2 separate regions of the Homo sapiens genome follow, and region 2 is linked to region 1. The links come from fine-mapping of genetic effects on gene expression. Tissue or cell type: whole blood. Region 1 holds a variant in brackets; the other region holds the start of a gene. All regions are shown on one strand. Distances are from middle to middle.

Evidence for each region. PIP is the estimated chance that this variant, and not a neighbour inherited with it, causes the effect.
Region 2: it holds the start of MAP2K5, and the variant in region 1 is fine-mapped to the expression of MAP2K5 in whole blood (INTERVAL, PIP above 0.99).

The regions. Positions count from the first base shown.
Region 1 is chr15:67,632,821-67,641,080 of GRCh38, reverse strand. The region is part of intron 9 of MAP2K5 (mitogen-activated protein kinase kinase 5); the gene reads right to left. Among named protein-coding and RNA genes, the nearest start is that of MAP2K5, 94 kb to the right of the region's middle. The variant C/A (reference allele first, on the strand shown) is at 3,852.
Region 2 is chr15:67,538,833-67,546,832 of GRCh38, reverse strand. It overlaps MAP2K5 (mitogen-activated protein kinase kinase 5), which reads right to left and starts at 4,130. Exons shown (of 22, transcript NM_145160.3): 1 at 3,363-4,130. The coding sequence starts at 3,497. It overlaps MAP2K5-DT (MAP2K5 divergent transcript), which reads left to right and starts at 4,203. Exons shown (of 1, transcript NR_186334.1): 1 at 4,203-5,765. RefSeq lists a silencer at 3,995-4,114 and enhancers at 4,988-5,037, 4,690-5,190, 7,224-7,313.

The DNA of each region.
Region 1 (8,260 bases):
GTTCTGTTTACAAGATGGCTAACAGTATTTTTATTTGTTTTCTGCTCTACTTATCTGCAATTGTCTTGACTACCTGCACCAAACAAACAGACAAAAAGGTAGAAACACGTTTCATGAATTACACATGGTCATTATGAAATAGTTATCTTTAAAATGTGATTAGCATCATTTTCAAAATGTTCTCTTTGAGGCAGAACATTTTCTAAATTCAATAGTATAAAATAGAAATTCATGGTACATTATTCTTTCCAAAATTCAACTTCTTTTAAAAATATCTTGTAATATATTCCTACCTCAGAAGTCTAAAAAGGGAAACATTTACAATATGCTTTTTTGTCTAAAAAATAAGAACATTTAGAAGCATAACATGAGAAACATTTTGAGTAGGAAAAGCAACAGATTTTCAAGGACTCATCTAATTGTGCCCATAGACATTCAAAGTGTGGGTCCAACTGACCACTTTGCTTGGAAAATTAAATTTCCCTCATCATTCCATGCAGGCGTCAGACCCTGCAGGTGATTCAGTTTGGACAAGGACTGTGATTTGCTGCTCTTCACAATCCTCTGTGACATCAGGCAGCCCCGTTTCACAGCTGAGGTCACTGGGAGGTTCAAGTGACATGCTTGAAGTCACACAAAAGTCAGGAGAGGGTCAGGAAAAGATCAAATACGCTTCTAACTCTTAACCTTCCATTTCACCCTTTAATATAAAAAAAGCTAAGAAATATTCTGGGTGAGAGCAATGGTCCATATAAAGAACGCTATGAGATATTTTGTATGTGAGCTGAACCTGCTTTCAAGATGTTACTTTAAAAGATGAATGAACTAAAGAACAAACAGAAGAACAAAAATTTATTCACTCAGTCACTCAACAAATTATGTATTGAACACTTACTCGTTATGTGTAATGCTTTGTACTATACCCTATATGCAAGGATCTGCAGGAATCACGGAGTAAGGCAAGAAGATAAATAAGATCTGTTCCCCACTTACAGAGTTTTCAATATAATATGGGAAATGTACAGGTATACTAACAGCAAAATACAAGGCAGTTGGTGATAACACCCTTAAAAGACATATACAGGGAATTCTAGAGAGGTTCAAAGAAGAAAATGAGTGAGTGAGAGATAGACCATATGTGACAGGGCTTATCCAGAAAAGTTCAATGAAGGAGCAGGCTTTTCAGCTGATCCTTGAAAGGTGTTAAAGATTTTGATAGGTAGAGATAACGGGTGAAAGCATTCTAATTAGAGAGGAATACGTGAATCAAAGTGTTGAAGTGAGAAAGTGCCTGAGTTCAGATAAGGCAACGAGTTCAACTTAAAAGACACACAGGATTCAAACATGTAAGATAATGCTATAAAAGCAGACTGACGACATGTCGTGGAGGATCTTGAATTCCATCCTCTAAAGTCTTTAGTTTATCTGGGAAGTGACGTGAAGCCTCTGAAGACTTTTGAGAGGGAAATAAATGTGACCAGGATGACCCTTGGCAAGCCAAATCTGAGAGCAGTGAGCAGCGCCGGCAGGGGGGTCACCGGCACTTAGAACAAGACTACCTATGTTTAAATCCTGGCTCCACTACTTATCAGTTGTGGGACCTTGGGCAAGTTATTTAACTTCTCTGTGCCTCAGCTTTTGTAAAACAGGAATCAGTAAGAGTTACAAAATGTTGTGAGCATTAATTTAAAAAATGCATGCAAAATGCTTAGCATTGTATAAATCATCAATAAATGGTAGCTTCTATTTACTGAGAACAATTCAAAAGCTGGTATACATGTCTGACAAGAAAGAAGCCAAGCATCTGGATTAGAGTGGTGTAAGGAAAAGAAAGGGATATTAGAACTCTGTCAGATGCATAGTTCGCAAAATTTTTCTCCCATTCTGTAGGCTGTCTGTTCACCCTGTTGATAATTTCCTTTGCTGTGCAGCTCTTTAGTTTAATTAGATCCCATTTGTCAATTTTTGCTTTTGTTGCAATCGCTTTTGGTGTCTTCATCATGAAATCTTTATCCCACTCCTATGTCCAGAATGGTATTTCCTAGGTTGCCTTCCAGGGTTTTTGTACTTTGGGTTTTACATTTAAGTCTTTAATTTTGAGTTAATTTTTGCAGTAAAGGGGTATAAGGAAGGGGTCTATACAAATTTGTAAGAAAAAGACAACCCCATTAAAAAGTGGGCAAAGGACACGAACAGACACTTCTCAAAAGAAGATATACACGAGGCCAACAATCCTATGGAAAAACGCTCAACATCACTGATCATTTGAGAAACGTAAATCAAAACCACAATGAGATACCATCTCACATCAGTCAGAATGGCTATTACTAAAAAGTCAAAAAATAACAGATGCTGGCAAGGTTGTGGAGAAAAAGGAATGCTTATATACTGTTGGAAGGAGTGTAAATTAGTTCAACCATTGTGGAAGACAGTGCAGTGATTCCTCAAAGTCCTAAAAACAGAAATACCATTTGACCCAGCAATCCCATTACTGGGTATATACCCAAATGAATATAAAGCATTCTATTATAAAGACACACGCATGCAAATGGTCATTGCAGCACTATTCGCAATAGCAAAGACATGGAATCAACCTAAATGCCCATCACTGGTAGACTGGATAAAGAAAATGTGGTACATACACACCATGGAATACTATGCAGTCATAAAAAACAATGAGATCATGTCCTCTGCAGGAACATGGATGGAGCTGGAGGTCATCATCTTTAGCAAACTAACACAAGAACAGGAAACCGAATACCACATGTTCTCACTTATAAGTGGGAGCTAACTTATGAGAACACATGGACACATAGAGGGAAACACCACACACTGTGGCCTATCAGAAGGTGGAGGGTGAAGTGGGGAGATGATCAGGAAAAATAACTAATAGGTACTAGGCTTAATACCTGGGTGACAAAATAATCTGTACAACAAACCCCCATGGCACAAGTATACTTATATAACAAACCTGCACATGTACCCCTTAAAAGTTAAATTAAAAAAGTTAAATTAAAAGTTAAAAAAATTAACTTTTTTAATTTTTAAAAAATTAAAAGTAAAAAAAAGTTAAAAAAAGTTAAATTAAAAGTTAAAAAAGTTAAAAGTTAAATTAAAAAAAAGAAAGGAAGAGGTACTAAAACACACATACACACACACTCACACACACATCAACAGGCTTCCAGACATTGGACATTAGCCAGAATGGGGCAGTGATCCCTGAAAGATGGAAAACAAATGAGATGAGCCCTATGATTGCCCAGCTTGCTGACCAGAGAGTTCCCAGGCCTCAGTGCAGGGAGGGGAAACCAGGCAGAGATAAGCCATCTCCCTAAGATGAGAAGACAAAACTGAGAGTCTGAGGAGGCCAAGGAAGCTAGAGAAGCAGAGGGCAGAGAGCTGGCAGAGGACCTGAGGGAGAGAGCTCCAGAGGTCTGCCGAGGGGGTCCTGGAGTCTTCAGCTGAGTAATGAATGATCTGTACATAGATGTCAGGAGATCACCTGAGGCCAGGGAGAGAACCACTAGAAAGGCTCAGAAGAAACGATCTCCAGATTAATACTGGGCAAGAAAAGTTTGTATTCCCACCAGTCAGTGTGGAAAAACCTTGCAATTTGCAAGGCACCAGGTAGAGTACTCAGAAGAGTACTACCTCTGCTGCACGGGGAAAATTAGTTCTAGACTAACCACTGGGCTGGTACTGTCTAATAAAACTTAAAAGCAAGCCTTGAAAGAATCAAATTATTCAAAAGTAACTAAATACCATCTCTGTATTAGTCAGGGTTCTCTAGAGGGACAGAACTAATAGGATAGATGTATATATGAAGGGGAATTTATTAAGGAGTATTGACT[C/A]ACAGGATGACAAGGTGAAGTCCCACAATAGGCCATCTGCAAGCTGAGGAGCAAGGAAGCCAGTCCAAGTCTGAAAACCTCAAAAGTAGGGAAGCCAACAGTGCAGCCTTCAGTCTGTAGCTGAAGGCCTGAAAGCCCCCGGCAAATCACTGGTGTAGGTCCAAGAGTCCAAAAGCTGAAGAACTTGGAGTCTGATGTTCAAGGTCAGGAAGCATCCAGCATGGAAGAAAGATGAAGGCGGGAAGACTCAGCAAGTCAAGTCCTTCCAACTTCTGCCTGCTTTTATCCTAGCCACACTGGCAGCTGATTAGATGGTGCCCACCCAGATTGCAGGTGGGTCTGCCTCTCCCAGCCCACTGACTCAAATGTTAATCTCTTACGTTAACATTAACTCAAATGTTAATCTCTCTGAATATTAACACCTTCACAGACACACCCCGAAACAATACTTTGCATCCTTCAACCCAATCGAGTTAACACTCAATATTACCCACCACAATCTCAGAATAAAGTTCAAAAATATTTATAGCAGAGCAAAAATAGCACCCATGCCACATGTCTGGTATCCAATAAAAAATTATAAGGCATAGCTGCTCTGCTCAAGCAGAGTAGCTATTCTCTTATTCCTTTACTTTCTTAATAAACTTGCTTTTCACTTAAAAAAAATTATAAGATATGAAAAAAAAGTGAAAAATACAACCCAAAGTGAGGAGAAGAGGAATCAGTCAAAACTGATCCAGATATGACACATATGATGGAATAAATAGATAAGGCCACTAATTCAGTTATTATAACTATATTTCATACTTTTTTTTTTTTTTTGAGACGGAGTCTTATTCTGTTGCCCAGGCTGGAGTGCAGTGGCGCAATCTTGGCTCACTGCAAGCTCCACTTCCCAGGTTCACGCCATTCTCCTGCTTCAGCCTCCTGAGTAGCTGGGACTACAAGCGCCCGACACCACGGCCAGCTAATTTTTTGTATTTTTAGTAGAAATGGGGTTTCACCGTGTTAGGATGGTCTCGATCTCCTGACCTCATGATCCGCCCACCTCAGCCTTTCAAAGTGCTGGGATTACAGGCATGAGCCACGGCGCCCGGTCATTTCATACTTTCAAGAAAGCAGAGGAGGCCAGGTGCCCTGGCTCACACCTGTAATCCCAGCACTTTGATAGGTGGAGGCGGGTGGATTGCTTGAGCCCATGAATTCAAGACAAGCCTGGACAATGTGGCAAAACCCCATCTTTATTTATAAAAACAAAAAAAAAGAAAGCAGAGGAAGTTTTAAACATGTTAAGTAGAGACATTAAAGATGTAAACACCAGCTCAATACCAGTGATAAAGAAAAAGTCTTGAAAGCAGCCAGAATGAAGCCAATTCTAATATACAGAGGAACAAAGATTTAAAATGACAGTAAACTTCTCACTGGAAAGAAAGAAAACAGTGAAACAAAATCTTTAAAAAACTGAAAGAAAACAGCAGCCAACCTAGAATTCTACATTTAGCAAAAATTAAAATGCCTCCCAAAAATGAAAGTGAAATATACATTTTTAGACATACAAAAGCTGAAAGAATACCAAAAGACCCACACTATATGAAATGTAAAGGAAGAAGTCATTCAGACAGAAGGAAAATACTACTAGATGGAAATCTGAACCACACAAAGGAATGAAGAGCACTGGCATTGGTAAATACAGGAATAAAAATAGAATACTATTTTTCTTACTTTTTAAATGTCTTTAAAAGATAAATATTTCCAGGCCGGGCACGGTGACTCACACCTGTAATCCCTGCACTTTGGGAGGCCGAGGTGGGCAGATCACAAGGTCAGGAGTTCGAGACCATCCTGCCTAACATGGTGAAACCCCATCTCTACTAAAAGTAGAAAAAAATTAGCCGGGCGTGGTGGCAGGCGCCTGTAGTCCCAGCTACTCGGGAGGCTGAGGCAGAAGAATGGTGTGAACCCAGGAGGCGGAGCCGAGATCGCACCACTGCACTCCAGCCTAGGCGACAGAGCGAGACTCTGTCTCAAAAAAAAAAAAAAAGATAAATATCTAAAGCAAAAGTAGTGACAATGCATTTTGGGGTTTATCGCATATGATGATGTAAAATGGATGATAATAAAACAAAGGCTGGGATGAGGGAAATGAAAATACACCACTGTAAGATTTGTAGACTATAAAGTGGTACAATACTATTTACATAGGAAGACTATGTTAAGTTATGAATTCTAAAGCAATCACTTAAAAAAGGGGGCATACAGGCAGAACAAATAGAAAACAAAGAGCAAAATGACAGATTTGAATCCAAACATATCAATAATCATATGAAATGTAAATAGTCTCAATACTCTCACTTAAAAAGCAGAGATCATCCAACTGGATTAAAAAATAAGACCCAACTGTATGCTGCCTACATGAAATACATTTCAAAAATAATGACACAATAGGTTAAAAGTAAAAAAAAAAATATCATGCTAACACTTGTCAAAATGAAGCCTAGAATTTAATATCAGACTATAAATTTCAGAGCAAAGAATATGATCACAGACAAAGAAGGTTACTTCATAATGTCAATGAGGCCGATTTATCAAGAGGACATAACAAACATAAATGCACCTAAGAATATATCTTCAAAAAACATTAAGTAAAAAATAACAGAACTGTAGGCCACAATTATTGTTGAGTATTTCAACACCCCTCTTTCAGTAATTGATAGTACTAGATAAAAATCAAATATCTAATAACAAATATCTGAATAACACTATCAGCCAACTTGATCTAATTGACATTATACAATACCCTATACAGTGGATTATACATTCTTTTTTTTTTTTTTTTTTTTTTTTTTTTTTTTTTTTTTTTTTGAGATGAGGTCTTACTCTGTCACCCAGACTAGAATGCAGTGGTGCAATCATGGCTCACTGAAGTCTCAACTTCCTCAGCTCAGCGATCCTCCCACCTTAGCCTCCCAAGTAGCTGGGACTACAGGCACACACCACCATGCCCAGCTAATTTATTTTTTATTTTTTATTTTTTGTAGAGACAGGGTTTTGCCACGTTTCCCAGGCTGGTCTCGTACTCCTGAGCTCAAGTCATCCACCTACCTCAGCCTCCCAAAGTGCTGGGATTACAGGCACAAGCAGGCTATACATTCTTTTCATGTGTACAAGGACTGTTTACCAAAATAGGTCATATTCTGAGCCATAATATAAGTCTCAACAAATTTAAAACAATTTAAGTTATAGGAAGGGTGTTCTGGAACCACAATGGAATTAAATCAGAAATCAGTAATAGAAAGATGGAAAATCTCCAAATATTTGGAAACTAAATAACACACTTCTAAGAATTAAAAATTCTGCCTGTTTTGAAGAAATGGTAAATTTTTCTTAGATTATGACTATTATACAAGTTACATGGTTTTTGCCTAAACTACCAACAAGCTCAGGGCTACACAAATGTTTAATCACAATAATCATATCTGCTCTTAAATCATCCATTCATTCAATTCAGTGTGAGTATCTACTATATTTTATAGAATCTAGAGATACAAAGTGAATACAGTACAGTTCTTGTTGTAAAGCCCAGTTTAATGATCAGGTCTAGTGAACAGTATATTTGTAAATCCCAACTATTTTCATTTACTGACAGTCTCTACTTTCCTAACAGCTATTCTGTAAATATGTCCTTTCTTTAAAATTGCTTTTACTCTTTTCCAGAAAAAGCTGTTGGCCCCTTGCCACACCCAACTAATGCACAATACTTTTAATATTAGTCTATATAAACATAATTCAAAATGTATGAAATTACGAAAAATGTATAATGTACTTTGCAAGGCCAAATAATCATAGATTTCTAGACGATTTATAACAGTGTTCCCCTCTCCTGGAGTAAATAACCTAGAGTTGGCTATCTTTAAATATATCATCAGCAACAATCTAAGACTTCTGACATAAAAGGAACAAAAAAGTAACTCAATGGATGGGAAAATAGTGCTCAAGTTTTAGTGGAAGTTTTCTCTTAGTGAAAAGGGAGCTCAGGAGGTACAGAAAGGTTAAACCAATGCCAAGGTGTACAACAGAGCCACACTCAGTGAGAACCAAGGTGGTACGACTGGGCCGCGCTCGGTGAGCACCAAGGTGGTATGACACAGCTGCATTCAGTGAGCTCAGTGCCTCTGTAAAATGTGGGGGCTGTAACAGGTGATCTCCAAGGTCTCTTCCAGTTCTACAATTCTATGGACCCTAAATGGCTGAACTGTCAAAGAAAATATCTCAAAGGAAGCTCTGTTGTACCCCCTCACAAGCTATTTAACTTATTAAAACTAAACTTGATAATGCCACGTAACACATTCTAGGTGCTGTACTAGATGTGATATGGAAGAAGAACTCTGGATTTCATTAGCAGTCAGAGG
Region 2 (8,000 bases), 94 kb after region 1:
TCGGCCTCCCAAAGTGTTGGCATTACAGGCCTAAGCCACCACTCCTGGCCCAGAAGTCTTATAGATGAGGGGAAATCTGAGCTTGGAGACCACAGAATACAAAAAGAAGAGGGGAGAGGGTTGGGCATTCTCTCTCATCACACACTAACCAGACCTCTTGTATAGTTTTCCCAAAACTAGGAACTCAGTCTCCAGGGAAAAAGAGAAACACAGAAAGCTGCAAAACAGAAGACCCAAATGTCTCTACCTTTGAGGGTCAGGTCAGCCTCCATAGTTCAGCCAGTCCCTGATGATTCAGACAAAAGACAAGGCCCAGAGAGACCGACTGACTTGCCCAGGGTCTCCCAGCTATTTGATGCACAGTGACTGGAGCCCTCAACTGCTGACTTCAGGTCCGAGACACTCAGTTATGGCTGACTCGGTGACTACAACCTGCTTCTGGCATCTGTGTCAGGTTCTGCCAAAAATTAGCTGGGTGGCTTTAGCAAGGTATTTTCCCCCTGTGGGGTTCATGCCTCTTCATTCGAAATGAGTCTGAATTAGATGAGGGGATTCTTCCAGGTTCCACGTGACTTTAAAGTTTAAGGTTCCAAGCCAGAGATGCTGACGTGTCTCTTGGTTCTTGCCTTTTCTTGATGAAGAGATGAAGTAAACCTGGAGAACAGATCACAGGAGTCTGCCATGATCTGGGCTTGAACATTTGCTAAAATGGAGCACTAGGAGATAGCACTGAACACCCACTGCCACAGGTCCTTCGTCAGGCCTTTCTGACAAAACATGCTCCACCTGGGCTTACCTAGCCAAAAGTGTGCAGACACCTGGCATGCTGAGCTCTAGTGGTGGGGCCACTCGTGTTTCCTGTTAAGCCAGTCAGCCTTGAGCCAGGTACAACTTAGAGATGCTCAAGAAACAGAAGACCCAAGTCCAATCCCTTATAATAACAATCCCATCAATAATAACAACACTAATGGAGCGCTTACTATGTGCTAAGTTGTTCTGAGTGCTTTACATGTATCAACTCAAGGAGTCCTCAGAACTCTAGGAGGTAGGCATTACTTTCACCCCTCCCCAACTTTTTTTTCACAAATAAAGAAACTGAGATACAGAAGATACTTGCCCCAGTAGTACAACTTGCAAGTTAAACAACCTGGCTCCAGAGTTTGTGGTCTTAAACACTGGGCTATTCTTGAAATAATCACATAACCAAATAATATAATCACATAATAATCAACCTTCCATTGTTTTAAATGAGTAAGAGAAAACCCATCTTTCTCATCACAGTCACAATCTCACATAATCTTTCCAAGTCTTTGAGGAAGGTACAAGTTTCCCTGTTTTACAAATAAGGAAACTAAGGCTCAGAGAGGTAGACTGACTTGCCTAGTCAGTGGGACAGCTTGCAATTAAACCCAAATTCCTTGACTCTAAACCTAGTGTTCTGTCCACAGAACCATAATTGCATGCATCCTCTTTTAAGCTCCCTTCTTAAACAAGTATTTTGGGGTCCTATGAAGAAACAAAAACAAACATATCTATCTCCTCCAGAAGTTTACCATCTAGTGGAGGAGACAAAGAATCATGATCAAACATGTGCTTTGCTGGGGGACCCACACAAAGCTGTGACGACACAGAGGTGGGGCACATAACCAAGAATGACACAGAGAAAAAGCACAACTTGGCTTGGAAGGACAGGTGGGAATTGACCGGTGAAGAGCAGAGTGCAGACAGCCTGGACACCTGGGAGAAATGAAAATCAACCTATGTAAGTGAGGCACAGAAGTTTATGGGGCCGTGAAGAGAGATGACACAGGTGCCAGGCAGACAGGGGCCAATCCAGATGTGCCCAGAGGACCACATGAAGGAGCCTGGGCCTTATCATGAGGGGAAATCTGTATGTGCATGACTGTGTGGAGAACTCCGGATACAAAGAGAAGGATGGCATTTGATGCACAATATGGAAAGCTCCTGGTCAAGGCACCCAAAAATCTGCATGGCCTGGGCAGTCAGTAACATCTAGAACTCAAAATGAAGTTATAGAAATCAAATTTTGATTAAGTTACCCAAGACAATGAAAAATCACATCACAAATCTTCCTCTTCCCAAGATCCTGCCACCTTGCCCACTCTTAACTTGCAGGTAGTGATGTGCTTTTCGGAATGTCCGCTTCTGTCTTCCATGCCTCAGTTATTCTGCATGTAGAATGGGCACAAGGCACCCTGTCTATCTCAAATGAATACCAGAAAGATTAGAAGCGGCTGCAACATGTAGGGAAAGAAACCTACTAAGTCAATGAAACAAAATTTTAGTTCTGGTACTGACTCTCCCACTCAGGAGCTCACAGCTTTGGAAAAGCCATTTCACCTCACTGCTCCTCAGTAACTATCTGCAAAAAAGAAACATCAGCTGAACAGGCCACCTACAGTGTTACACTCTGCTCTAAAATTCCATCATTTTATTTGAAATATATTCTGAAAAATCTGAATGTAAAATATCACCAATTCTAAGATGCACATTTTCCCTTACTTTTACCGTCTCTGAAACTGGACTCATTTTAATAACGGATGATGTGTCATACTGTCATGGTTAGCATTTTTTTCTAAGTAAAATGTCTTACATTCAATGATGCTTTAAGTTTGCTCAGGCTGGGCACAGTAACTCACACCTGTAATCTCAGCACTTTGGGAAGGCCGAGGCAAGCAAATCGCAGGAGTTCAAGACCAGCCTGGGCAACATGGCAATACCTCGTCTCTACAAGATACAAAAATTATCCAGGTGTGATGGCATGTGCCAGCTACTTGGGAGGCTGAGGTAGGAGAATCGCTTGAGCCCAGGAGGCAGAGGCTGCAGTGAGCCGAGATCGTGCCACAGCACTGCAGCCTGAGCGACAGAGTGAGGCCCTGTCTCAAAATAAATTAATGAAACAGTGTGCTCAAACATGGTAAGTTAAAGTTGTCCTTTTTCCCTTTCTCAGCTGGTCACCAAGTTCAGAGAACTCAGTAGAAAAACAAGGCTGGAATCTGTCCAAGGACATTCCCCGAAACACTTGGGGGGAAAAAACCTCTCTTCTAGATTCAGCAGTTTGCATTTGCGTGGTTGTGTCTATATGTGTGTCCCAGCCCGGGCCATGAGCTCTCTGAGGGCAGGGGTTCAGTCAGATTGATCTATCTCCCCAGGGTCCTAGACATTTGCCAGGTTTTAGTGGTTGCAATTTATCAATGCTGTGCCTGAAGCAATAAAACTGCCTCCACAGGAAGCCAGCAGTAGCCATTGCCACTGGCTCAGGTCACCAGTGGTCAAGGTGCTGACTACTCAAGTCCCTGAGTCCCCCTTGCTGGCATCCGGACACTGAGATTACCACTCACCAGCACATCCCTGAAGAGTAACTGCGGCCCGGAGTGCACTGTCCAGTCCACCGCGCCACTATTTGGGATCTTGATGCGAATTACCAGCACCTGGTTCTCCATGGCAGGAAAGGGGCCAAGGGCTAGCCACAGCATTACAGGTTAAAGAGGCTCACATCCTGGGGTATGGGAAACCCACTGGCCGCTGGTTAGGAGGGGGCTCCAAGAGGTGACAAGGGGAGTGACGGGCAGAGGACAGAGGGTGAAAACAAGGGAATGGAGGATGAGGGGGAGGGAAGAGGGGAGGGGTGATCAGGAACGCACCCGCAGGCACCGAGCCTGCCCAGGCTGTCGGGGGTCTGAGGTGTCTCCCGGGGAGGGTGCACCGGGAAGCGGGCAAAGGCCCGCAGGAACTAGCGGAGGTCGGAAGGTTCTGGAGTTGAGCGAACGCTATGGTGAAGGTCTCTGCCGCCGTGTGGGTATGAGGAGGCAGCAGGGCAAGGACTCGGTTTGGGGGAGATACAGCGGCAGGTGTCCACCGCTCGTCAGTGGACTAGGAGAGGGTCCTCGACTGGAGGGGACTCAGTCCGGGGCTATTAAGAAAGAGCCCCAGGGCCGCCACACCACGGAGAGTCCCCGCGGGAGGTTCAAGGGGCGAGTCTTCTGCCCCACCCGGAGACACAGGGCGCGGCGCGCGCAGGCTGAGCTCCGGCCACCCGAGGCCGCGCGGACTGGCGGCGGCTGCGGCGGCGGCGACGGCGGTAGCGGCGAGAGGAGGAGGAGGAAGGCGGCGGCGACACTGTTACTCCGGAACCAAAACGCGCGGCGCCGGAACCCCGGGAGCCGACGAGCGGGACCCGCCTCCCGCGGCGCCATGTTGGAAAAGGGCAGCAGCTCCCGGGAGGATGCGCCCCCGGCGTGGGAAGCCGAGGAACCGGCGCGCGGCGCGCGGCGCGTGGCGCGTGGCGAGTCGGGGAGAGACTGGTCTTGCTCGCTCAGGAGACCCTCATCGCCCACAGAGCGCCCGCGGCGACCCGGTCACGGCCCTTCCATTTCCTGACCCTGCTTAATGACAGCGAGGTGAAAACATCTACCAAACGAAGGGTAAAAGGCTGGAGTCCGCCAAAAGCCAATTTAAGGCTTAACATTGCAGACCGTTTGTCTTTACAAAAGCTTCAAAGACGGGGCTGCAGCTCCCGGTTATCCCCACTTTGTCAAGCCATGAATCTGAATGTTCGTGGGGTTGTGTGCATCGAATCAGCAAGAGCAAGGCAAGAATTCAAGAAATAGTTCTTTTTTATCCCCCCTTCCAAGTCACAGGTTCAGAGGATCATCATCTTTCTCCCACATTAGCAAAACATATTTGCATTTTTCAGTGAAGTTCTTTACCGCACGAGTGCCCTAAAATAGCAAACAGTTCCCTGTTCAAAAGCAATAGTAAAGAAATTCGCCGAAGAGTTTAATTGCCTGGGGACAGCTGCAGTAGTCGCATCATCGTCTCTTATTAAACTGTTGCAGAAATATTCGGTCTAGTCCATGTATTTTCAACTAAATAGCACTGCTTACGCAGTTGGTGATATGGTGATATCACGGAAGTAGCAATAAACCTTGGTTATCTTTTTTTTTTTTTTTTTTGAGACGGAGTCTCGCTCCGTCGCCCAGGCTGGAGTGCAACGGCGCGACCTCTACTCACCACAACCTCAGCCTCCCGGATTCAAGCGATTCTCCTGCCTCAGCACTACCACCCCCACCAGCCCCCAACCCCTGCCGAGTAACTGGGACTACAGGCGTGCGCCATCCGTGCCCGCTCATTTTTGTATTTTCAGTAGAGACTGGGTTTCACTATGTTGGCCAGGCTGGTCTCAAACTCCTGACCTCGTGATCCGCCCACCTCAGCCTCCCAAAGTGCTGGGGGGATTACAGGTGTGAGCCACCGCGCCCGGCCAACCTTGGTTATCTTCAAATGCCTTGTTACCTCAGATTTTAAAGTGCATAAGGTTGTAGAACGATGGTGCCTCTACAGAAGTTTCTTTACAAATTGTAATGTGTAGGTTCGTCCTTTATTTCTTTCTTATGAAGGTGCACGAATTGGCTTTACTTTCTGGGGTTGAATTTTGTATAAACTCGGTTGAGGAGGCTTGTCAGTTTCCCTTCTAACAGTAAGGTGCTTGATTAATGTGAGAGAAAAAAATTAATGTTGGTCATTTTCAGTTACAATACCAAAATTTTTTCTGCATACTTTACTCTGAGTTACTTTTATATTTAATTTGAAAGGCCATTGTAGGAGATAAATTATCACATTTTAAGTTACTGTAAATCAATAGCTTAGGTAGAAATTCATTTAGTCAGATCCTTCAGATATTCTAGGAATTTCCCCTTTTCACCTGCACTTCACTTCTGTGAAAAATAAACCGTTCATCAAAAGTCCTCATGTACTTTTATTAAAAGTTCATTTCCTATTATTTTAGAAAATAGACCACGAAACTAGAGATTTTCTATGAACCTGTGATTTGTTAAAATGTCTCTTTTATTCGAAGTACCGTGGGGAAAACCAACTCAATTTGCCAAATTTGCATACATATTCTGAAGCTTTTCTTACACTAATGGCAAACTCATATTTCTGTTCCAATATTTGCAGAGCCAATATAATTACACGTCAGCTCTTCATAGCCTTTATGTAGTAAGAAATCTTAACTTTGATGATTTGAGCAAGGATTTTTCCAGAAAGTTATAACTCTCATTGCGAGAAGCATCATAATCACTGATAATACATTCCACTTGATATCATAAATGACAAAATATAACTTTCTGATCTTTACCAAATTGAATACTGTCTAAATTTAAGGAATATTTAGTATTTAACATCGAAGTTGCATGTGATCTTAAGAAGTTTGCATTTAGTACTTTTTTTCATTTTATTTTATTTTATTTATTTATTTTGAGACGGAGTCTTACTCTGTCACCCAGACTGTAGTGCACTGGCGCAGTCTCGGCTCATTGCAACCTCCACCTCCCAGGTTCAAGCGATTCTCCTGCCTCAGCCTCCCAAGTAACTAGGACTATAGGTATGTGCCACCACGCCCAGCTAATTGTTGTACTTTTAGTAGAGACGAGGTTTCACCATGTTGGCCAGGCTGGTCTGGAACTCCTGACCTCAAGTGATCCACCCGTCTCGGCCTCCCAAAGTGCTAGGAATACAGGCGTGAGACAGCGCGCCAGGCCTTTTTTCTTGTTAAATGATACAAGTCAGAATAGTCACTCAGGTACTGGCTGAGATAGTTTACTAGCCATTAAGCAAACTTACTGTAAAAAAAAAACTGTGCTTACTTGTAGTGTTCCTACTTGAGGGATTTACTTTTCACTAAGTGTAATAGAAAATCCCTCCCCTCATGAAGTTATATTCTGATGGGGAACACAGACAAATGAGTAAAATATATGTTAGATAGTAGTAAATGCTAACAGAAAAATGAAATCAGAAGGGAAAATGGTAAAACAGTAAGTGCACCAGTGTGATAACACTAAGGAATATGAAAACTGGCCTATATTGGCTTCAGTTAACTGGCAAATTTAACTGAAAATAGACACATTACTGAAAAGTTAGATGTCTAGTGATTTTTTTCCTTGTGATAAAATACACATAAAATTTACCATTGTACTCATTTTGAAGTGTGCAGATCAGTAGTGTTACATACATTCATTCATCCTGTTGTACAGCCAATCTCCAGATTTTCATCTTGCAAAACTGAAACTCTATATTCATTAAACAACTGCCCACTTCCCCTTCCCTCCAGCCCCTGGCAACCACCAATCAACTTTCTATTTCTATGAATTTGACTACTCTAGATACCTCATATAAATAGAATCATCCAGTATCTGCCTTTTTGTGACTGGCTTATTTCACTTGGTATAATGCCTTCAGGGTCCATCATGTTGTAACATGTGTCAGCATTTCCTTACTTTTTTTTTTTTTTTTAAGATGTACTCTTGCTGTGTCATCAACACTGGAGTGTAGTGGCATGATCTAGGCTCCACCTCCTGGGTTCAAGCAATTCTCCCACTTCAGCCTCCCAAGTAGCTGGGATTACAGGTGCCCACCACCACACAAGGCTAATTTTTGTATTTTTAGTAGAGACAGGGTTTCACCATGTTGGCCAGATTGGTCTCGAACTCCTGACCTCAGGTGATCCACCCACCTTGGCCTCCCAAAGTGCTGGGGTTACAGGCATGAGCCACCACCCCTGGCCATTTCCTTCCTTTTCAAAGCTGAACAAAATTCTGTTGTGTGTATATAACACATTGTGTGTATCCATTCATCTATCAATGAACATTTAAGTTGTTTCCACCTTTTGGCTATTGTGAATAATGCTGATATGAACATGGGGGTACAAATATCTGTTCCTGTCTCTCCTTTCGACTTTTTGGGATGTATACTCAAAAGTGGAATTGCTGGATCATATTTTCTATGTTTAATTTTTTGAGGAATCACCATACTGTTTTCCAGAGTGGCTGTACCATTTTACATTCTCACCAAAAGTGCATAAGAGTTCCAATTTCTCCATGTTTTCACCACCACTGGTTATTTTCTATATTTGTTTATAGTAGCTATCCTGTTGGGTATAATGTGATATCTTACTGTAGTTTTAATTTGTATTTCTCTAA